3 separate regions of the Homo sapiens genome follow, and regions 1 and 2 are each linked to region 3. The links come from fine-mapping of genetic effects on plasma protein levels. A gene starts in region 3. Each other region holds a variant in brackets. All regions are shown on one strand. Distances are between the middles of the regions.

Region 1 (8,189 bases), 19 kb before region 3:
CCACCTCCCAGGTTCAAACAGTTCTCCTGCCTCAGCCTCCCGAGTAGCTGGGACTACAGGCGTGCACCATCACACCTGGCTAATTTTTGTATTTTTAGTAGAGATGGGGTTTCACCATGTTGGCCAGGATGGTCTCGATCTCCTGACTTCATGATCTGACCACCTTGACCCCCCAAAGTGCTGGGATTACAGGTATGAGCCACTGCACCTGGCCAACATTCTTAAAGAAAATAAATTCCAACCAAGAATTTCATATCTAGCCAAACTAAACTTCATAAGTGAAGGAGAAATAAGATGCTTCTCAGACAAGGAAATGCTGAGGGAATTTGTTACCACCAGATCCAACTTGCAAGAGCTCCAGAAAGAAGCACTGAATATAAAAAGGAAAGAATATTACGAGCCACTACATAACCACACTGAAGTACACAGACCAGTGACACTATAGAGCAGTTACACAAACAAGTTGACAAACAGCTAACAACATGATGGCAGATTCAAATTCACGCATCTCAATATTAACCTCTAATGTAAACAGACTAAATGCCCCAATTAAGAGGCACAGAGTGGCAAGCCAGATGAAGAAGCAAGACTCAGTGGTATGCCGTCTTTAAGAGACCCATCTCACATGCAATGACACTGATAGGCTCGAGATAAAGGAAAGGAGAAAAATCTGTCAAGCAAATGGAAAATAGAAAAAAGCAGGGGTTGCCACATGCCCATCAATGATAGACTGGATAAAGAAAATGTGGCACATATACACCATGGAATACTATGCAGCCATAAAAAAGGATGAGTTCATGTCCTTTCCAGGGACATGGATGAAGCTGGAAACTGTCATTCTCAGCAAACTAACACAAGAACAGAAAACCAAACACCACATGTTCTCACTCATAAGTGGAAGTTGAAAAATGAGAACACATGGACACAGGGAGGGGAACATCACACACTGGGGCCTGTCGGGGGTGGGGGGCTGGGGGAGGGATAGCATTAGGAGAAATACCTAATATAGATGACAGGCTGATGGGTGCAGCAAACCACCATGGCACATGTACACCTATGTAACAAACCTGCACGTTCTGCCCATGTATCCCAGAACTTAAAGTATAATTTAAAAAAAAAGAAAAAGAGAAAAGCAGGGGTTGCAATACTAATTTCAGACAAAACAGACTTTAAACCAAGAAAGGTCAAAAAAAAAAAAAAAAGACAAGAGAATTGCATAATGGTAAAGGGTTTAATTCAATGAGAAGACCTAACTAAACAAAATCTACATGCACCCAACACAGGAGCACCCAGATTCATAAAACAAGTGCTTAGAGACCTTCAAAGAGACTCAGACTCCCACACAATAATATTGAGAAACTTCAACACTCCACAGACAGTATTAGACAGATCATCAAGGCAGAAATTTAGGATCTGAACTCAGCACAGGACCCAAATGGATCTGATAGACATCTACAAAACTATCCACTACAAAACAACAACACATACATTCTTCTCAACTGCACACGGCACTACTCTAAAACCGATCACACAATCAGACATAAAACTATCCTCAGCAAATTTAGAAAAATGAAATCATACACTCCACACTCTCGGACTACCATGTGATTAAAATAGAATTCAATAAGAAGAAAATCACTCAAAACCATACAATTACATAGAAATTAAACAACCTGCTCCTGCATGACTTTTGGGTAAATAATGAAATTTTGGCAGAAATCAGGAAGTTCTTTGAAACCAGTAAGAACAAAGATACAACACACCAGAATTTCTGGGACACAGCTAAGGCGGTGTTAAGAGGGAAACTTATAGCACTAAACATCCACATCGAAAAGTTAGAAAGATCTCAACTTAACCTCACATCACAACTGAAAGAACTAGTGGGTCAGCTGTGCTGTGCAGGTGATCCATGCTACACCCTAATCACTACTTGCTCTTCGGAACCTGAAAGTTACAGCAACGGAAGCTTCAAGATGGAAAAAATGGCAGCCAGCCTCACCCTCTGTGAGCTCCGTCCCAGGGAAATGTAAAGTTGCTACCAGCCTGAAAACCCTGATGGGGGTGGGGTGGTGGTGGCTGCAGTCCCAGGTTGTGGGGTTGCCCCCATGAGGAGAAGTGGGACTCACATAAAAAATAGTCTGGCCAAACGTCCTTGATGAACATTGATGCAAAAATCCTCAACAAAATATTTGCAAACCAATATTCCTGATGAACATTGATGCGAAAATCCTCAATAAAATACTGGTAAACTGAATCCAGCAGCACATCAAAAAGCTTAGCTACCGCGATCAAGTAGACTTCATCCCTGGGATGCAAGGTTGGTTCAACATAGGCATATCAATAAATGTGATTCATTCATATAAACAGAACCAATGACAAAAATACGATTATCTTATCAGATGTAGAAAAGGATTTTAGTAAAATTCAACACCTCTTCATGTTAAAAACTCCCAATAAACTAGATATTGAAAGAACATACCTCAAAATAATAACAGCCATCTATGACAAACCCATGGCCAACATCATACTGAATGGGCAAAAGCTGGAAGCATTCTCCTTAAAAACTGGCACAAGACAAGGATGTCCTCTCTCACCACTCCTATTGAACACAGTATTGGAAGTCCTCACCAGAACAATCGGGCAAGACAAAGAAATAAAGGGCATCAGCATAGGAAGAGAGGAAGTCAAACTATCCCTGTTTGCAGACGACATGATTTTATATCTAGAAAACCCCATAGTGTTGGCCCCAAAGCTCCTTAAGCTGAAAAATGATGTTAGCAAAATTTCAGGATACAAAATCAATGTACAAAAATTACTAGCATTCCTATACACCAACAACAGTCAAGCCAAAAGCCAAATCAGGAATGCAAGCAATCCCATTCACAATTGTCACAGAAAGAATAAAATACCTAGAAATATAGCTAACCAGGGAGGTGAAAGATCTATACAATGAGAATTATAAAACACCGCTCAAAGAAATCAGAGATGACACAAACAAATGGAAAAATATTCCATGCTCATAGATAGGAAGAATCAGTATGAAAATGGTCATATTGCCCAAAGATCTCTACAATGAGAATTACAAAACACTGCTCAAAGAAATCAGAGATGATGCAAATGGAAAAAATATTCCATGCTCATAGATAGGAAGAATCAATATCATGAAAATGGTCATATTGCCCAAAGCAATTTATAGATTTAATGTTTTTCCTATAAAACTACCAACGACATCCTTCACAGACCTAGATAAAACTATTTAAAAATGTATATGGAACTAAAAAAAGAGCCCAAATAGCCAAGGCAATCCTAAGCAAAAAGAAGAAAGGAGGAGGCATCACACCACCCAACTTCAAACTATACTACAGGGCTACAGTTACCAAAACAGCATAGTACTTGTACAAAAACAGACACACAAATCAATGGGACAGAATGCAGAGACCATAAATAATGCTGCACACCCACAACCATCTGATCTTCAACAAAGCTAACAAACACAAGGAAAGGACTCCCTATTCAATAAATGGTGCTGAGATAACTGGCTAGCCATAGGCAGAAGATTGAAACTGGATCCCCGCCTTACACAATGCACAAAAATCAACTCAAGATTGGTTAAAGACTTAAATGTAAAACCAAAAAGTATACAAACTCTGGAAGACAACCTAGGCAATACCATTCTGGACACAGGAACTGCAAAGATTTCATGAAGAAGACACTAAAAACAATCTCAACAAATGCAAACATTGACAAATGGGATCTAATTAACCTAAAGAGCTTCTGCACAGCAAAAGAAACTATCAATAGAGTAAACAGACAACTTAGAGAATGAGAGAAAACTTTTGCAATCTATGCATCCAATAAAGGTCTAATATCTAGCATCTGTATAGAATTTAAACACATTTACAAGGAAAAAACAAACCACCACATTAAAAAGTGGGCAAAGGACAGGAATAAACACTTTTCAAAAGAAGATATACATGTGGCCAACAAGCCAATGAAAAAAAGCTCAATACTACTGAATATTAGAGAAATGCAACTCAAAACCACAATGAGATTATCATCTCACATCAGTCAGAATGGCTATTATTAAGAGTCAAAAAATAACAGATGTTGGCAAGGTTGTGGAGAAAAGGGAATGCTTATACACTCTTGGTGGGAATGTAAATTAGTTCAGCCATTATGGAAAGCAGTGTGGCGATTCCTCAAAGAGCTAAAAACAGAACTATCATTTGACCCAAGAATCCCAGTACTGGGTATATATCCAAAGGAATATAAATTGTTCTGTCATAAAGACACATGCACACATATGTTCATTGCAACCCTGTTGCAATGAACAGTAGCAAAGACATGGAATCAACCTAAATGCCCATCAGTGGAAGACTGAATAAAGAAAATGTGGTACATACACACCATGGAACTATGCAGCCATAAAAAAGAACGCCATCATGTCCTTTGCAGGAGCATACATGGAGCTAGAAGCTATCATTCTTAGCAAAATAATGTAGGAACAGAAAACCAAATATTCCATGTGCTCAGTTATAAGTGGGAGCTAAATGATGAGAACATAATGGATACAAAGAGGACAACACACAGTGGGGCCTATCTGAGGGTGGAGGGCGGGAGGAGGGAGAGCAGAAGACATTGAGGCCTATTGGAGGGTGGAGGGTAGGTGGAGAAAGAGGATCAGAAAAAATAATTATTGGGTAGTAGGCTTAGAACCTGGGTAACGAAATAATCTGTACAACAAACCCCATGACACGAGTTTACCTACATAACAAACCTGAACATGAACCCTTCAAACCTAAAATAAAAGTTTTAAACATAATAATAAATAATAAAATTTGAGAAGATTTCATTATTTAAAATCTCAATTCTGAAAATTAAATAGGCAAATAATTTAGGTAATAATAATTTGGACAGTATGAAGAATAGTGTGAAAAGAGAACAATATGAGGAAGCTCAACTTGGACAATTTGAAAAGTTTTAAAAAGTTGAATTTAGACAAATTGTGAATAAAATTTGTTCTTTTATCATAGAGGTGTAAGTGCTTTTGATAATTCTTTGGTGAAGAGTAAATCGGTAATTAATAACTATTAAAAT[A/T]TGTGGTTAAAATTGTTTTATGATGAAACAATTATGATTTAATTAGCTATATAGAGAAATTTTTTCCAATTGTTGACTCAGCTACTTTCAATAAAATTTTGTGGCATCTTCACAAAGTAAATGATTAAATAACTAGTCCTCATTTTACTATATAGAGATTTTCATACAGACTCTTCCTGTTATGAATAAAATTCAAATTGGAATATTATAAAAGAAAAAATCAAATAAATGTTTTAAAACCTTTGATTATTTCTGTGAATGTGATACATAGACCAGTATTAGAAGAAAATTATTCAACAAAAATTGAAGAACAATGTACACAGTGGGGTCCATTCTCCATATCTAACTACCTCTACACTAGTATTGGGAAAAAACTGATATTCAAAACTGGCAGCAGTTTTTAATGTTTAATTAAAATAATTATTAATTATTAGAGTACTGATTAATAATGCATAAATTTTAACTTTCTCAAAATTGTTTCAATTTTCAAAACTGAAAAATAAAAATTAAAAATTAATATTTAATTTTTCCAGCTTAGCAGGAAGAGAAACTACATAAATAGAAAATATTAGGCATGGAGCAAATCCTAATGGTTATTAAGTTTAGCTTAGGGGTGTGGTGGAAATTGGTAAAATGTTTCCCTTAGTTTAGGTTAATTACAAAAATGTTCACGGGTTCTCTTTTCAGTGGTTTAACCTCTAGATTATTTGACTTAGAATAGAAAACGATCTTGGTTCCCCAGGCCTCAATTTATTCTTGAAGTGAATCCAATTTCGTATATAAAGTACTCATGGCCTGGCACAAGAAAAAAAAATCTATCACCTTTCTTCCTTCCCATTTCCCATGATAATTACTTTTTTCTTCTCTGCAATGTTAATTTAATCAATGTACACTTTATTGGGGGTGGAGATAAATAGAAGGCAGCTTAGATTTTGAAAAGAGCTTTGTTTTGCTGTTAGAAGAAACAAACTAAAGTGAAAAACTAGTGTACCTTAGCAGAGTGACTGATACAGAGTAGACAATCACATTTATCTGTTGACTGTTGAATTTTAAAATGCCAAAGAGTCATAAGACGAGTATTTTCCTGCGTGTCCTCCTTATTGTGAAGGGATGATGGAAACGATTTCCCATTTATGAACTGTCACCGAGGGAAGGGTAAGGATGTGTTAGGGGAGCAAGGAGAGATGAATCTGAGGATACTCACTGTCTCCTGACTCCACAGGCAGAGTGTGGGTTCCAGATCTGACGATGACTCCCTTAGCCATGATCTGAAATGAAAAAACAGTGAAGGAAATTTCTTGAGCTGGACACAGTTCTCAGCCTTCTATTCCCCACATGACCCACTTTCAGTTGTCAAGTCTGTGCTGGAGAGAATCAACCTCAAGAAAACTCATGGAATGAAGGACGCACAACAAGAACACAAGGTGGCTGTGTGCAAGTAGTTTATTTTGACATTCCTGAGCCTATTGACCACTTTTGTCCTACTGATAAGCTGCAATTGTATTCCATGGCCTCATTCTTACCAGGTAATGGAAACTGAGCTCCGATAACTCTCCCATGGCCTGTCTATTCAGTGTATAGTGTGCCGTGATAGTCTCCGTGTGGCCACAGGGCAGGGTACCAGCCACAGGCTCCAGGTGAATGTAACTTCCACTTAAGGAGAAAACACGATTTGCAGTGTGCTGAGCACCCTGGTGGTCTTCTGCTACCCATGAATAGTGAAAACACAAGTTGGGATGCACAGTGAAAACCTGAGTAAACAGAAAAGCAAAGAAAGAATACTGTCTTGAAATTCTTCACCTTAGCTTCTCACCAAAATGAATAGTTACAACGGTGTCTTCCACTCTAAAATACACTATGCCTCTCCCTCATACTGGTCGACAGCCAAATAAATGAATTTTCAGTCTCCCAACATTCAAATATTAAAAGGAAATCATCCACAAATTTATCTCTTTTGCCCTGATTCTGCTAACTCATTACTACTTTGACATTTTCCTCCTGCCCCTCAGAACTAGAGGAAAAATGAGAATGATAAATAACTCAAACAAGTGGAAAAGGGATTTTTCAGATATTAGAATTACCTCATGAATTGGCTTAATTAAAATTAGGGTTTGTATTAATAAAACATTCTATTACCTTATGAGCTTCAAAATTGTTTTTAGTAATCCTTAGTAAATTAGCATTTATGCCTCTTATCATTATTGTGACTTCCAACCTTTAAGACCTATGTGATTTCTGAAACTTTAAGCCTTGCAGATAATGTTTTGCGCACAATTCTATTTCCCTTGTGGTAACTGCTCCTTAGCTTTTCTTCAAAGTGCACTTATTTTTTTCTAAATTTATTAGGCATATTTTGTGGACTCTTCTATTTGGTCTCATAATAAAGTTCCTATTTAAAAAAACCTTTTGCGCATAAACACATCATACTAATAATTTACAGATCTTTTAACTCCATGAAAATAGGAAATTTTAAAGTGTAGGGACACTATTTAGTCACCTTTTAAATCCTAGGGAGAGTGAGTGTCTATCACATAGAAAACATTAAACATCATTACATGTTTTTAAACTGAGTTAACACGTGAAACTGAGAAACAGAAATAATGTATATGTTATTTATTGACACTGAAATCCATAAATTATAGTCTTTTATCACTTCTTTGAGATAACAAGCATGAAAACTTTTTAGCTAGGGAAATCTTTTGATCATCGTCATTAGACAGTGTATATTAAGTGTGTGTGTGTGTGATCACTTTACAAAATTTCTAAGTGACCTGGAAAAAATAACATAAAACAAAGTACATGAATTACTGAAGCAGCTGATATTGTTCACGACCCAAATCAAATAAGATTTTTTTCATACTATATAAAATGTTACAGATAATGATAGTGAAATTATCAGGCACTTCTGCAGTGCCTTTTCTAATGCCTTTATTGTTTTTCATGAAATTCTATTATCCTCAAATTTGTAAACTCAAAGTTAGATATCTTCTTATTTCTTACTCTTAAATGCAATCTGTACATTTCTTCTGAATATATCACTGTTCCTAACATTTCCTTTGTCCTCAGAGATTTGTCTTTCTATACTTACCCGG
Region 2 (8,189 bases), 43 kb before region 3:
GTTATTATTGCAGTTATTTTATTATTAGAGTTAGCAGTAATATTATTATATCTCCTTGTGGAACTCTGGGTGCAAGGAATAAGAATTTGACTTAATGATGAGACTACCTTTGATAGTCTAATTGCTTTTGGCACTGTGTGACTTCCAGAGTCCTTCCTCTTCTCATTTAACTATATTTTTGCATGGCTGTGCTCAGTAGCTTTCTAAAAGAAGCCTAAGACTTAGTGGGGGAACTATCGCTCTCCACTTTTGTAGCAATATTAAGACTTATAACCATGATAATACAAGTTATTTTACTGCCTCCCTTACACTATATTTGAATGGATTCCCATGTTTATAAATAGATAACATGAATATACCTTAAATTAGTCCTTCTCAAATGACAAATACAGTGCTGTATACACTGTGGACATAGAACTAATAATGTGGCGGTTCTGTATAAAAGCTACAACTACTTCTTAATGATATGATGAACTTAAATGTAAATTATTTTCTACACGGAAAACACACATTTTTAGTGAGATGGGTAGGAAATGCTATATGTTTTGTCAGCAGCTGTTTTAGAGACTATCTCTTGGGATTCAAACTTATCATGACCCTGCTGTCTTTAGTTTTTGTTGTTGTTGTTGTTTGCTTGTTTGTTTTTTTAAGAGTCTCACTCTGTTGCCCAGGTTGGAGCGCAGTGGTGTGATTTCGGCTCACTGCAACCTCCCCCTGCCCGGCTCAAGCGATTCTCGTGCCCCAGCCCCCCATGTAGCTGGGACTACAGGCGCCCGCCACCAGGCCTGGCTAATTTTTGTTTTTTTCGTAGAGACAGGGTTTCACCATGTTGGCCAGGCTGTTCTCAAACCCCTGACCTCAAGTCATCCTCCCGCCTCAGCCTCCCAAAATGCTGGGATTACAAATGTGAGCCACCACACCCGGCTAACCCTGCTCTCTTTCTACCTCATCCTGGGACACTCTAAGCTTCTGCAGCTGGGCTTGTCAGTGAGCAGCCACTGGGCTATCCAGGTAAAAGGGCTACGTATGAACCAAGAAAGCCCAGGTATTAGTCCTGTCTGTACCACCTGAGTCACATTAACTTGCTCTCTTGGGCTCAATGTCTTCATCTGTAAAACATACATAAAGAAATATTTAGTATTATGCTGACTTTCATGGAACACTCTGAAAACTGGGAGATAAAATGAATGTGCATTGTAACTTGAGGTTTATACCCCTTTGTGGTTTTGATCTCACTATGATTATGAAGATGGACTCTTACCTGAGGCACAGGTCATAGAACTGAAAGTCTTTTCTTGCTCAATACCTTCAGCCTTGGATGAAAGGAAAGAAAAGGAGAAAAGATAGAAACATCCTGGTGACAAGAGAACCACATGGATTCCTTTCTTTGATGGGTAGGGTTTACACGAATGATGTTTACCATCCTACTCTTTTTTTCCCAACTTTTGTTTTAAGTTCAAGGGGACATGTGCAGGAGGTGCAGGTTTGTTACATAGGTAAATGTGTGCCATGGTGGTTTGCTGCACAGATCATCCCATCACCTAGGGATTAAGCCCAGCATCCACTAGCTATTCTTCCTGATGCTCTCCCTTCTGTCACTCCCACTCTCAGACAGGCCCCATATATGTTGCTCGCCTCCATGTGTCTATGTGTTTGCATCATTCAGCTCCCACTTATAAGTGAGAACATAACATCCTACTTGTTATTGAATTATTACAAATCCATAAAACATTGAAGAACCAGGGAGGGTGGTAGAGAGAAAATGGGAAGAGATAATAAGGGCAGTAAATCAAAGCTAATGGGTATGAGAGATATGTGAATCTTAGGAGAGAGGTGGAGATCAAGAAATTGCGCTCAATGTAATCCCAGCACTTTGGGAGGCCGAGAAGGGAGGATCACGAGGTCAGGAGATTGAGACCATCCTGGCTAACATGGTGAAACCCCGTCTCTACTAAAAATACAAAAAAAAAAAAAAAAAAATTAGCCAGGCGCCTGTAGTCCCAGCTACTCGGGAGGCTGAGGCAGGAGAATGGCATGAACCCGGGAGGCAGAGCTTTCAGTGAGCCGAGATCGCAACACTGCACTTCAGCCTGTGCAACAGAGCAAAACTCCGTCTCAAAAAAAAAAAAGGAAATTGCACTCAAATAATTTGTGAAAAAAAATTTACAATAGCTGGCAATGTTGTCTGCTGCAATGCTTTTAGGGCAGGAAATTCCATTAGTCTTACAGGATGTATTGTGTGAGCATGATATTAATGGTTCTTTGTTGTCTCAAGAGTGACCGCCCGGTGTTGCATTCTTACAGTTGTTAGGGACTCCCAAAAATATGTTACCTCCACCAACAGGGTTTTGATGACTGTGTCTTTTCTTTTAATCTCAGGGACCTCAACAACCTCATTTCCACAGAGTTCTAAGGACTGCATTGCCTCTGCACTCACTGAGAAGTTCACATTCCCTAAAACAAGGAATATTGAAAACATGAGTATCCACTTTGATAGTCCAATCACCTTTAAGGGCTGCACCTTAAACTTATAGTTGTCCAGAATAGAAAATAAGGCTAAAAAAAAAGAAACCCACAAGGTTAATGTATACTAAGTAGCCAATGTCCAAGATAGTGATTCTGGGGACTAGCTTGGGTGAGAACAGTGGGAGGAGGTCATAGTGGATAGAAATAGGAAAAAAAACTAACTTTATAGAATTATATCTATGGCAAATAAAAGAGAGAATATGATGAAAAAAGTACTCAGACAGCCACCGTCCTTGTTGATTGATAGGCCCTTTTGGGTACTGTCACTCACCCAGAGTTTTAGGAGTCACTGTCCAAGACAAGGTTTGTCTCTCATTTCCACAGATACAATAGGATTCTTCTCCCTTTGTATTTTGGGAAGCTAGGAAGGCTGGAGAGGCTTTCAGCTGCACACTGACCTATCACCCCATGTGAGGCAGAGACAGAAATGATCAGAATATGGAACGACACGAACACATAGAATTGGGGCCAAGTGTGAGATGCTGCAGTAAATTGGGATTTGTAAGAAAAATGTATGTCACATAGATTCATCCATGCTTTAAGAAGCATGGCAATGGCAATGATACAAATCAAGATTGGTTGTGTATTAGGAGGATTTGGCATTTGCCTTAGGGTAGCTTGTGGACGTGCAGGCTTGGCAGTGGCAGAGGAAAGGGAAAAGCAGTGATTGTATATTGCCCTAGGGAATACTATCTGCTGCTATGTAGATTTTCATAGTTTCTTCCTTCCTTTCTTCTCCTATTTCTTACAACATATATTACATGTCTAATCCATACAAGACATAAAACACTGGGAATGGTAGATGAGAGGCTCCCGATCTTGAGGATATTGTGTCACAAGAAAGATGATCTATATACAACCACTATTACATAATTTACAAAGAGATAAGTGCTATAAGATAAATTAAAATTATATATTTTGGAGATTTCAAGATGACGGGTTGGAGAATGACTCTCGTGGAACTGAGAAAGCTGAGTTGTGTGTCAGCTTCAAGAATGTTCCTGGCATATAACCTAACTTGCAGCAAAGAATTCTGCAAGCGCTAAGAAATAGAAAAGCAAGGTGTGGCTTAGAGAGCCGTGATTTAAGCACCCATAGCACATATATCATTGTATTATCTTTCTGATCATGTCCTGCTTTGCATAGCACTAATTATTCACAGTGCTAACACACAATCCCTTGAATTATCCTTAGTCTCAGGAACAGAATCAGTAGCTGACTGATCAAAGGAATCTTTTGTTCTACCCACCTTTCCTGTTCACCCTCATTTTCCTTACCCGGATGCATTTGGGAAGGTAGTTTAGGACCGTGGCCTTGAGTGTGAAG[A/G]CCTCTCCACGAATCACAGAGTAAGGCATTGTGAGCTCCACAAAGAAGGGCTGGAAGGCTCGGAGAGAGGCAGTGGAAGAGATACCAAGTCCAGCATCTTCGGACAGGCAGAAGGCCCCTGCCTTCCACTCGGTGATGGTGTCAGGGACTGTTACTCCTACCTCAGCCACACCTGATGAGCTGGGGAGGAGGGCAAGTGAAGAACAGAAATAATGAATGTAAGCCACCTTTTCTCAAGTGAGAATTAATATGCATAAAGCTAACGTCAAGAACTGAATCCACTTAAGGGTATATGCGAGTGTGCATTCGTGTGAACACTAGATTATGTCCTGGGATCTGAGTTGGGAAAATGAAAGCCACTGAATGGTACCTCTCCCCCTTATCAACAAATGATCATATCCCACATGTCTGTACTTTGAATAAAAATATTTGAATTGCGATTCATTTTAGTCCTTAACTTCCCTTGCTATTGTATAATCCCATAAATAAGCATTTTTAAGAATCATGACCAACAATTAGACCACTGGATTAATGTAGCCTGATTTGTTTATGTGCCTGCTCCAGCCCTGATATTTACAGAAGGCTCCCTGAACGACATTAAGCAGTATATATAGAACTGAATATTTATAGTTCTCATGTCTACTATTTGACAGTATCAGAAATAATTATTTTAGAATTGCTCAGCACTGAGACAATTGTATTAATGAGCCTATGCAATTGCGCATTTTACTTAGGTCTATCCTAAAGAGGAAGAGGTTAAGATAATTATTCAGAACTTTTCAGGAAGATTGTCTTAGAATTGAAAATGTTGGAGGAACCACATTCCCTCCCCTCCAGCAAATGGAGGAAAGTAAAGTTACTTACTTCACTGCCACCAACTCCCAGATCCAAGTCTCAGGAAAATAGCTTCGCACCGTTTCAGGGACTGGCCCTGAACTTTGTTCATTATTTAAGGGTATCACATTATATGTGCCTAATTGAGGAACATATGGTCTCTCTACTACTCCTAGACCTGCTAAAGTAAGAGAAAATTGTCTAGTTAGGGAAAAACATTCATTAATTTCATGGTGCACATGTGAGACGTTAGAGAACAAAATTTTCAGTTTTCCTGCTCAGACTGTCCTAAAAGTCTTGTAGAAGTTGTAGAACTTGGGAAATACTTTGTGATCCCTCATTCCCTGAAAAGAGAGGAGTCTTTGTCAAAGGTGGAAATTCTATGTATCCTAGACATAGCATAATTTGATGTGAATGGAAGCTGGAAAAACGAGATCACTTGGAGACAGTTTTATGGGTTTTGTGGCGAAGGACCAATTTTGAAATTGAGACAGTATTGCTTCATTCTTAGAGAAACTGAGCAGGAATTGTAAAATGCTCTTTAGACATTGAGAGTGGTTGCTATACTAAAAATGAAATTACCAGTGGAGTGAACAGAATTTAATGATTTACATTAAATTACTTTTACATAAATTAAATTTACTTTAAATCACTGTATGGAACTTTGCAAAACTGTTGTTCTCTGGGAAATAAGATTAGAGCATTAGATTTTATTCCACTTATTTTTTGACATCTGAAATAAACAATTCAGTTGTCAAAAACAGATATTTCCATTTGGAATGGCTGTGTGGTTCAGACAAAGAAATCATTTACCAACGTGAGAGGGTGGAGAGCTAGACATGAAAGCAATTTTGTCCACGTTGTGCCTGAAATCATGCTTACTAATTGAATTTGATTTAAGATCTCCCTCCATGTATCCCATCTGATATTTCAGAAATACCTTGTGAAAGAATACTTACAAGGAAAAATATATTTCTAGCAATTTCACCCTAACAGTTTTCTCCACTGAAGAAAGCATCAGTAGTAATTTCTTTAGTGAATATCATACACCTTGCCCCATGTCCTTCCAAGTGGTAACAATTTCTATCTCTGACTCTGATTTCTCACTGTTTTGTCTTCTCTGTCTTCACTCTTATCTTAAATATTGAAATATCTAAAAGGATGATGCACCTAAATGAACTATTTTCCATTTTCTACTGGATATGTCAAGGGCCCTCCAACTCCTCCAGTTATTGCAGTTAACAAACCATGGCATTATGTGTTATTTCAACTCCATTTAGTGGACCATGGCTATATCCTTCCTACTCTTACTGTCAACTTGACTTTCCACGTGTCCTTTCATAGTCTCTGCATCAAAGCTTTGTGTATCAGACCCAAGACCCTGGTGGCATGGGCTCACAAGGGTATCTCCTGATCCATGGGTTGCAGAGATCCTTGGGAGAAATGTGATTTCCCAGGCGAGGTCGCACAATCACTCACCGCTTCCCTTGGCTGGGGGTGGGGGTTCCTTCCGTTGCCCTCCCCCACCTCCACCCCTGCTGCTTTTCATTGTTCTCTGTAGTCATGGAAATGGCTTCATGTTGTTGAAGTTCTTATCAAGAAATTTCACAAGATATTTCAGTTTTCTTAGCTCTTTTATTTCCTCATATACCTGATTCATTTATAGCTACTAATTTCAATCCCTGTTATGTATTCATCACACATTTTAGAAGCTCTTTTTTTCCTGAGTGTTATTATATGCCGTCAATTTTCCATCTTGAATTTAATAAATTCAAGAACATTTCCTTCCCCCCAAACCTCAATGGTTTAAACTTGAAGTTTGTTCTATGTAAATCTCATGGCTATTTTCCTTTCCCTTATTCTTTATTCTCGTTATTTATATAACATCTCAGTTACAAGACAAAATCATATTTACCATTTTTGAGAAATTGTTTGAAATTTGTGCTATCATTGAAGGTATACTTAAACAGTCCATGGCCCTTTAAAAGGTGTCATTTTCTTAATAATAAAGCTCATTTAAAGATGGATATTAATCTTAAATGCCAAGGAACATAGAAAATGCTATTTAAACAATCAAAGTTCTTAATTTGTGTTGGTGCATTATATTTAGTTATCTTATTGGGCGTTTTGCAAGGTCTTGAAGAGCCATTAGTCAAATTCCTTCAATTTATTAATGAAGGATTTGAGGCTTAGAGAGGAGATATGACACACCCACTTCACATATAGGATATCTGATTTCCAATCCGAGCATATAAATATTTGTGAGCAGATGGATGTCAGGGATATTTTGGAGAAAAAGGGAGTTGGATTCATGAGAGAGGGATGACAAATGGCTGGGTAGTGTTCAAGTGTAAGTAGACCTGGTGATGGGACAGATGTTTTAATAAGTTCAAGGGTGTTGAAAAAGGCTGCTGTATTTGAATAGTGGTTTTGGCCATGGATTATGAGATATTTCTGTGATGTTCACGTTGTTTCTTGTCACCAGTGAAGCCCTTTGTCCTTCTTTATGTTTTTTAAAATACAGCATCCCTATGAATGTCTTTCCTGTTTCCATAATCAGAATTACTCTTTCTTTCCATTGTCAGCATTTTCCCTCTCTTACAGTACATCAGAATCTTGTATTTTATCTGATTTTGTGCCCTGAAGTATCGGATGTATCTAAAAAAAAATCTCTGATCAGTTCTAGCTATCACCAGCTAAGTCACCTCAGCAAGAAACAATTAATTTGAATCTTGGTTTCTTTGTGTGTATAAAGTGGAAATAGGGCTACATTACCTCATTTTAGCATTTTGGGCATAGTAATATTGTTGGACATGAAATAAAATTAAAAGCAAATTGCTGTTTTACCTCCATAGTATCCTTGACCTACTGCTCCTGCAGACACGGAAGGGATGACTGAACACGACTTTGGTTTTCGGATTTTTGAGTTAGTGAACACCTTCAATCCCATCCCCTGGAAAAAAATAATTGTTCAATCTACTTGTAAGCTTGATTAGAATATATAAAACATATTATCCTTAGAGACTTCTCTATGTAATTCCAGTATCCTTATATTAATTCTATGGCGAAACACTTGACAGTAAATATAGAGTAGTGAAATTACTAAACTTATGGATTATTAAGATTTTATTCTTTATTCATTATTTTTTGGTTTGCAAATAAAAAAACCTAAATATAACTAAAAAGTATCCAGATGAATAGGCAGAGGTTAGATCTAGCCCTGACTCACATACTGAGCTTTTGTGTGATCCTCACAAGAGACTTTAACCTTTTTATTGGCTTCATTTTTGTCTGCTGAAAAATGGAGAGGCAAGGCTACATAATTACTAAGATTATGAATAGATACAGAGTTTTATTAACATTCAAAAACTCACAAGCCAGCATGTTAATAAGTAGTGAGAATTTTACCTTGAGGAAGCTATAAATATCTGCTTCATTACTTGATAAGGGAACATAGATGGCTCCATTATGAATGAAGAAAGGACGGGGACAGTGTCCTTGTT
Region 3 (8,189 bases):
ATGCACAACTCCCTGCTACACACACACTACACAAACACACACTGTATTTTATTATCATTTCCCTTTATGCTCAATTTCTTGAGGCAATTAACATTAATAATTTAATATTAGTATGTCCATGTTTATAAACATGTTTGTTTCGAATCACATGGGTGGATAGGTTATCTTTTCAATAAAAAAAAACAAACAGGTTCAGGCTGGGAGAAGTGGCTTATACCTAGTTCCCGGCACTTTGGGAGGCTGAGGCAGGAGAGTCACTTGAGGCCAGGAGTTTGAGAACAGCCTGCACAACATTGTGAGGTCCCCCATCTCTACAAAAATTAAAATAAAAAATTTAGCCAGGTGGCACATGGCTGTAGTAGCAGTTACTCAGGAGGCTGAGGCAAGAAGGATCACTTAAGCCCACGAGGTTGAGGCTACAGTGAGCTATGATTGCACCAGTGCTTTCAGAGTGACAGAGTGAGACCCTGTTTCAAAAAAAAACAAAACAAAGTTTATATGAGTACTAAAAGTCATATTATTTTGAAAAGTCTTTTCTTTTTTATTTAAATTGTTGAAAGTTTTCAGTTTTTCAGAGGCACAGGCAATTTTTTGTGTAAGCCTCACATTCTGGCCTTAGCTTTATTGATGAGTGTCCTTTGTCTCTAATGCCCCCCACTCCATATTTTCCTGTCACTTTCCAGAAGCCTCCAATTCAATATAATCTCTCCACACTCTGAAATCCCATGGGCTGAAAGAGAATGTGTTTTTGTTGTTGCTGTTTTTGAGCATCTGCCACATGACAAGAATTGTTAAGCTGTCTCTGTATTAAGCCATTTAATCTTCCCAGCAATGCTGTAAGGTACATGCATGATACTCTCCATGTTCATGGAAGCTAAAACATGAGATCCTCATCAGTCCCCAAAACTTGAATCCATAACAGATAGATAAAATCCCTGCCCCCATGCCAAATCAGTAAAATCAGTAAATTGTGACTAAAATGTAACTCTTCAAAGCTTTAATGATTCAGTGATTCATGATTCAATATCTGCAGGGTTAGGCCATTTATAGAGTAAATTTGCAAGTAAAAACTATTATTTTCTTATATTATTTTACTACCCTTACTTTCCATTGCCAACATAAACTCTTACTTTTTAAATTGTTTTCTGGACAGGCAATTTGACACAAGAAACCCAATATTGTTGCTTTACAAAATTAATAGGTGTGAGACTAGGAGGAGAGAATCCAAGGATAATTGAGTTGTGGAATGTGGAACTCAAATTTGGTCCCCTCATCCTCCATGTAGTCTGCTCCAGCACACCAGTCTTGCTACATGTGTTTTAAAGTGTTCCTGGGCAAAACTATATGCCATGAATCTCCAGGGCCACTCTGAAATCATCCAAGTTTCAGATGATTTTACTGTATGAGTAGTAAGGTTTTGTTCTCTAGCAGAGAAGCTGAGGGCAGTTCAGTAACTCACTGATAGTCATTCAGCTAGTCTCTTATGTCTTAATCTTTTTCTGGTATCTGGATGCTTCTGATCTCCTGATCACTGCTCTTTTAACAGCATAATAAATAATAAAAATGTATCATTTTTTACATCCCCATCAAAAAATTTTTCCTTTAGTTCTTTGATCTTAATAAGAAGGTATATATATATTTATAATTTATTTACTATTTTTATTCTTATAAATTATAAGCCTAAAAGATATCACGATTAAAAATTAATTCCACATATATTTGATATTCTAAAGAACTATTTTATATGAGTTCAGTTAATATTTTTTTAACAGATATTGAAATCAGAACAAATCCAGGTTGACAAACTTGCCCAAGATGTCATTGGTAGTGAGCTGCTAAAATGTTTTAATATATGTTTACTCAATCATGAATGTTTGCATTTTAAATATTTGCCTCTTTAGCAGGGACTAAATGTAGCAAATATTAAAGTGATAACTTTTAATTTTCTCTTTTTCATTTTATTCCCCTGAAACCTTCATCTTTCTGAAGCTTACTGCCCCAAGGCAGGGGAGAATGGCTATTGGTTCTCTTTTGTAGTCTCTCACATTTATCACATCAAGGGTTAATTCTGGAGGGATGAAGTTAAGTTTTCTCCTTATAAAGGGAGAAAACACCCCTTCTGCTTGTGACAACTAGGGCATGAGGCTTGTTGTTCTTTGTTCAGTGGCAGACACAACGTAAAAGGATGGTTTCAATGGCAGCATGGTCCAATGTAGTGTAGGAATGCATCCAGAACCACAAATTGCTTAATGTTTCTGACCCAATACACGCTACTCGCTTTATCCATTCAGTCTGCTCTCAGAAAGCAAAATAGCCTCCACATATTCCCATATGCTTTCTGGATGGAGAGCAGCTGGAAGTAGTAGAGCCCACTGCTGTAGATGAGGTAGAGGGATAGTGGGGGAGAAATGTACCCCTACCGGTTGCCAGGAAATTGTGCAAGGAAAAAGCCTGAGGAAAGCAGGAGACTTACTGGATTGAACTCCTTATTTCTGCTTTCTGCGCTTTGGCCTGAAGAAGGCTATTTGTGTTAGATGGATAAGGGTAACACACAGAGCAGAGGGACCCCTTATCCCTTTCCCGATTTGGGACTCTGAAGACTTCCCTGTATCAGTCTGGAATACAGGAGACACGATAGGCATCTAGAAGTGCAGTGTGGGTATGCAAGAGAGAGGTAGAAGTTTAACCTCTCCAGGACACCTCAGTGCCTATGTGCTATTATTGGACCCAAGAGTTCTCACCATTCTCTGGAAGAAATGTAAAGGCAGCTGGGTTAAGGCCAGGGACCTTAAATGGCCTGGACTGCAAAGGGGCAAGGTGACCCTGCATCACAGGCTGTGTTGAAACAATAGCCATAGTATTTGAGGCAGGATGCAAAGGTAGGAGTTCTATGGGATATGAAACAGCTGAAGTGAGACAGTCAGTTAGAGAGGACTGTTGGGTCCTGAACACACAAGAGAAACCAGATGGCTAAACTTCAACAGTGCATGCCAGCAAGTAAGGAGAAGTCAGACTGACAGTAGCCAAGAAGGACGGAGAACTTTGAGACCAAGGACTCTGACAGTTTTCTCTATTAGGAGTTAATGGAGACCACAGTTCTCTAGACACTATAGAGGAGAGGAACTGGGGAGAGGTGGAAAAGAAGTCTTACAATTATTGAGTTGTACCAACTTACAACTGGATAGGGTTAAAATTATTTTCCCTGCTTTGGTCCCCCACTGGGGGCTGTTGGTGAAGACTTGATACATGATTGAAAAATAAAGGAGCTATACTTTCTGTATATATATATATGGCCTACAATACATGTTAAGTTGCACTTCACTATATATTTCGAATATCTCTATATTCAGTGCCTTCCATCCAAAAGAACTGTTCTGTGAAGTTGGGATCTAGTGTTTTATTTAATCATGCTTCCTAGTGACTAATCGTATTTATGACTCTGATTGGCCCAGTGTAGAAAAAATGATTTCAAGAATAGAGGATAAATGAAAGACAAACAAGGGATTAACTGGAATAATTTCTTATATTTGGAAGGTATTGTAATGAGTGGAAAGGTGGCATTTACAAAGGAAGGCAAAGCGAAGACACAAGGGAGAGACTGAAACGCACTCTGGAGGAAGGGGTCTTGAGTGAGACTTACGGTTCTGTAGAGTTTGAGTCACTGGCAGAAAGCAGGATAAGAAGTAGCACAAGACATAAATGAAGAAGTCTGTCTTTCCGCATTGTGAGGGATAAATCTCAGGGTTGTGTCCAACTCTCTGCCCTCAGCCTCGCCCTGGAGACCAGCTGAGTTTACCAGGCTTTATGTGGCCACTATGTACAAACAAGCCCCACCCCAAGGCCTCTGAATAGAGTTCAGAATTGAGCACAGATTCCCTAAAAGGGTCATTACTCTCAGTGGTTGCCTCATTTTTCTCAAGGCTAAATTCTGATAGGTACTGAGGCATGTCTGGAAGATAAAATTTGTATTCCATTTAGAATGAGCTTTGACAGCAAACCTCCTGATAAGGAACCTTCAACCTACCTTTCTCCATCTCTTTCAAAATCCTTACAAGCAGGTGACAAAGGATGCTGACAAAGAATGTCAGGGACATGTTACCATGATAGTAGCTCATGCATTGCAGATTCATTTCTGGGACTGAGTGAGTTATAACTATAGACTTTAGGGTTTTTGGGTTTTCTTTTTTAGCAGTTGATTGAGTACATGGTCCTGGAAGAAAGTGATATAAAATAAGGATTTCAAGAGTAGAGGATCAATGAAAGATAAAAGAGATAAAAGATCAAAGAGATTTTAGAAAGGAGTTATCAAAGATCACACTTGTCTATTTCACAGCATTGACCTGATCAGATTCTTAGTTGATCCTATCTGTCCTTGTTACTGTCTGAGCACTCTAACGTTTGAGTCCCTTAAACCATGTCATTGACTTTATCTGAGATTTTTTTTTTGAGCCATACTGTGTGCTAAGTGCTATTCTGGTGATGAAAATACAATATTGAACAGGATATTCAGTATCCATGCTCTCATAGAACTTGTAGTACAATGATGATCACATATAAACCACCAGCAGATTTAATGCCATCCTTAGACTGCAGACATTGGTGTCTGTTTACATACTGTATTGCTTGAAACTTTTTAAATCAACTTTCTTTCTCTTTCTCCATATTTCAGCCTAATCATCCCTTCTTTGGAGAGCAAATTCCTGGCCACACTGCTGAAAGTGGATTCCTTCCTATTAGTTTTTATTTCACATCTTTGTTTCTTTTGTCACATTATCATAGAATGAAATAATTTCTTTTAAATTATGAAATGTTATATATATATATACTCACAAATATAGAGAGCAAGATAAAAGACACTCGTACCTTACATGCACCCAACTTTAATAAAATTAAACACTTGCCAAGTTTGTTTAAGGTCATTTCTTCTTAAGAAATGAAAGATGGCAATGGTAGTGCTCTTTTAAAATTTGTCTAGAAGCTTTTCCAGTTTTTACCAGATCCACCAACCCAAAAAAAGAAATAAATCAAGACAAATATGGTTGGAGTTTCCTTTGTAATTCTCTCCAATCTCATTTCCCTTCCAATGTTGTGGGATTAGGAAGTTGATATGTATTCTTCAAGATGTGTTTATGTTTTTAATCCATATTTATGTAAATAATATATAGCATAATTTTGTGTTTTGTATTTTATATGTATAAGTGGTATGCACATATTGTAAAATATGTCATCACTATTATGGTTTTAAGACTTATTAGCATTGATAATGAGGATAAAATTTATTAATTTTAATGACCATCTATACGACATTCTATTGTATGAATGTGGCCGAACCTGTTACTCTATTCCCCTAGTGCTGAATTTTGGATTCTTCATAGTTTTCAACATTACAAATAATACTGCTACAAATACGGTATGTCTACTTAAGCATATTTGCAAGACTTTCTCTAGGGTATATAGCAGAGATTGGGTTATAGGCTATATATGTATGTACATCTTGAAATCTATCAGATTGGTAAATTGCTCTTCAGAGTATTACATGGATTTGAATACCCATCTGCAACAGTGGATATTTTCAGTTTATTATATATTTACCATCGTTTTACTCTGCTAGGCATTTTACTTTTTATCAATCTGATGAGTGAAGCAGTATCTTGCCTTAATTTTCATTATTAATGACTTTACACATCTTTTCATATGTTTATGGACCATTTGAATTCTACCATCAGTTTGATATCTCAACACAATATGTAAAGGGTCTATCAGGAACATCTCCTTGCCCCAGTTTCATGAGCCTTGGACTCTAGACGCTGCAATTTTATTTACTAAAGGCTTTAAAATGTGCTTCTAAATCTCTCAGCCAAATATTCTGGAGCTGTTAAATACCCTAAGGGGAAAGTGCCCTTAAACACAGAATTGCCCCTTTGGGTTGCTATGTTGCTTCTGAACTTTGGATTCATAATTCTTCACAGTCTTTGCTTTTCAATACCTCCAGTGAATATATATATAACCAACCATTCCTAATTTAAGTGGGAAGTTTGGTCTCAATTACCTTGTATACCATTACTGGAAAGGAAAGTCTTAAGTGTGTATTTTTATTTTATATAAAGAGTATTGGAAAAAGACCTTGCCTGTTTCTTATTCTTTTTAGTTATTGCTAGTTTTAAAACATCCTCCCATGTTTATATGTTTATATGTATGTATTTTATTAATTGCATTTTATTACAGTATAGCCCTCTTTGGTGATCATCCAAGAGGTTTAATGTTTCCACTCTCCTAATGATAAAAACAGGATTGTCTCTATTGTCCTGCCATGAGGAAATAATGCTTTGATAAATATCTTTTTACATATACCCTTTGAGACAGGTAAATCCTCTTGCAAGACGCATACACAGGAGTGAGATTGTTGTATGAGAGGCATGTACTTAAGTGACTAAATAGTGACAAATAACTCTCCAGAATGGTTGCATCACACCACAATTCTACCAGTAGTGCATGAGGATTTTCGTATCCCCATATTGCCACCAATACTCTAGCTTTTACATTTTTCTTCCAGTATTCCTTTAAATAAGCTTTCTGCTCATTTCCCTCTTTTCTCCTTCTAGGACTCCCATAATATGTGTATTTGCATGCTTGATGGTATTCCATAGGTCCCTTATACTTTCTTCACTCTTCTTTAATTTTTTTTCTTTTTTCACCTTTAATTAACTATTTACATGACCTGTCTTCAAGTTACTAATTCTTTCTTTTGTGTGACTGTGTTTGCTGTTGAAGCTCTCCATTAAAATATTCAGTTCTGTTCTTATATAATTTTTGTGTGTTTTTTCTTAATGGTTTCTATTTCTTTATTAAACTTCTCATTTTGTTCATACATTGTTTTTCTAATTTTATTTAGTTGTCTATCTGTGTTTTCTTGCATCTTACTGAGCATCTTTAAGATGATTATTTTGAATTTTGGGGGGAAATTTGTAGATCTCCATTTGGGGTGGAGATTAGTTACTGGAACTTCATTGGTTTCCTTTGGTGGTATTATGTTTGCCTGGTTCATCATTATCTGTGTAACTTTGCATTGGTTTCTATGCATCTGAAGGAGCAAACACCTTTTCCCATCTTTATAGACTGGTTTTACAGGTAAAGATCCTCAGGATCCTCCTGTTGGGTTCCCAGGATTGACAAGATTGCTTCCAGAATTGTGGTCAACTGGAGGTAGAGCCAGGTCACATGGTTTTGCTGGGTCAACAGTGAGGTCTGTGGTTGGCAGGCCTGTTAACTGGGGCTCTAGTAGGCTTAGATTCTGTCTGTTCCCTGGGTAAATTGGACTGCCTCCTAGACCTTGGTCAGTAGGTCTGGCACTGGGATGAGGGTCTACTTTAGAGTCCACAGATTGTAGGCTAGTTACGAGATATGTGGATGAATGTGGCTTCCTCTGGGTCCTTAGGAGGGCTCCTACTGGGTCACTGGGTAGGTTCCTAGGCAGACAGTGCTGGTCCAGATTGCAGCTGAGAGAAAAGAGAACCAAGTAACAGGGCTGCCTCAGGGCCTACAGCTGAGACCCAGGTCTTCAGGCCTGCCTCTGGGTTCATGAATGGGCATGTGTCCCACTGGGTCCCTGAGTGGGCAGGCCTGCTCTCAAATCACAGATGAGAGGGCCTGGAGCCAGTATACAGTGCTGTTTTAAGATCCACAGTGGGACCAAGTTCAGCCTACCAGGGCACTTGTGAGCATTTCTCCCATTAGGTCCCTGTGAGGGCAAGACTGCTCTTAGACTGCATCATAGAGGAGCTGGTACCAGATTTCAAGGCCATTTTAGGATTCACTGTATAAGAAAGAAAGTAGCCAATCATCTTTTCTAGTTTTTTTATGTTAGTTATTTTCTTTCATTAAATGTTATAACTAATATGTATAGTTGAGGCCATGGTAGAAACAGTAGTGACAAAAAACATAACTGTCTATGCAAGATAATAGGACAAATGTTTTCCAAATGAGGAAAAGAGTAGTTTTGTCTTAAAATATCTGATTTTTCCAGAATGTGAAATGGGACAGTGAAAGAGAAAATCTGAATGAATGTGCAATAAAGTTTGCAGGAAAGGAAATTATTTCCTTCATTTATAACATTGAATCTGAAAAAAAAAACCAGTAAATTTTTTCCATAGTTGGCTATTTTTTACAATTTTTAAATGGACACAAATTCC

Alleles and levels. Alleles are on the strand shown, and positions count from the first base shown. The strength of an association depends on the size of the effect and on how common the allele is.
As copies of T replace A in region 1, the plasma level of the protein whose gene starts at base 3,777 in region 3 goes down (weak association).
As copies of G replace A in region 2, the plasma level of the protein whose gene starts at base 3,777 in region 3 goes down (moderate association).

What was found. PIP is the posterior inclusion probability: the model's chance that the variant is causal. Protein levels are from antibody-based Olink assays in UK Biobank. Linkage for the fine-mapping came from a reference panel and not from the study's own genotypes, which makes the PIPs less certain.
Region 1: its variant is fine-mapped to the plasma level of the PZP protein (UK Biobank, PIP 0.95).
Region 2: its variant is fine-mapped to the plasma level of the PZP protein (UK Biobank, PIP above 0.99). The variant lies in the coding sequence of PZP. If it changes the protein, the assay may bind it differently, which can mimic a change of level.

The regions. Positions count from the first base shown.
Region 1 is chr12:9,185,892-9,194,080 of GRCh38, forward strand. It overlaps PZP (PZP alpha-2-macroglobulin like), which reads right to left. Exons shown (of 36, transcript NM_002864.3): 11 at 8,186-8,189; 12 at 6,621-6,848; 13 at 6,302-6,365. It also overlaps a transcript of KLRG1 not described here. Among named protein-coding and RNA genes, the nearest start is that of PZP, 18 kb to the right of the region's middle. The variant A/T (reference allele first, on the strand shown) is at 5,098.
Region 2 is chr12:9,161,336-9,169,524 of GRCh38, forward strand. PZP (PZP alpha-2-macroglobulin like) reads right to left here. Exons shown (of 36, transcript NM_002864.3): 16 at 8,095-8,189; 17 at 7,534-7,639; 18 at 4,717-4,867; 19 at 3,804-4,032; 20 at 2,798-2,924; 21 at 2,333-2,454; 22 at 1,262-1,313. It also overlaps a transcript of KLRG1 not described here. Among named protein-coding and RNA genes, the nearest start is that of PZP, 43 kb to the right of the region's middle. The variant A/G (reference allele first, on the strand shown) is at 3,853.
Region 3 is chr12:9,204,619-9,212,807 of GRCh38, forward strand. It overlaps PZP (PZP alpha-2-macroglobulin like), which reads right to left and starts at 3,777. Exons shown (of 36, transcript NM_002864.3): 1 at 3,641-3,777. The coding sequence starts at 3,723. It also overlaps a transcript of KLRG1 not described here.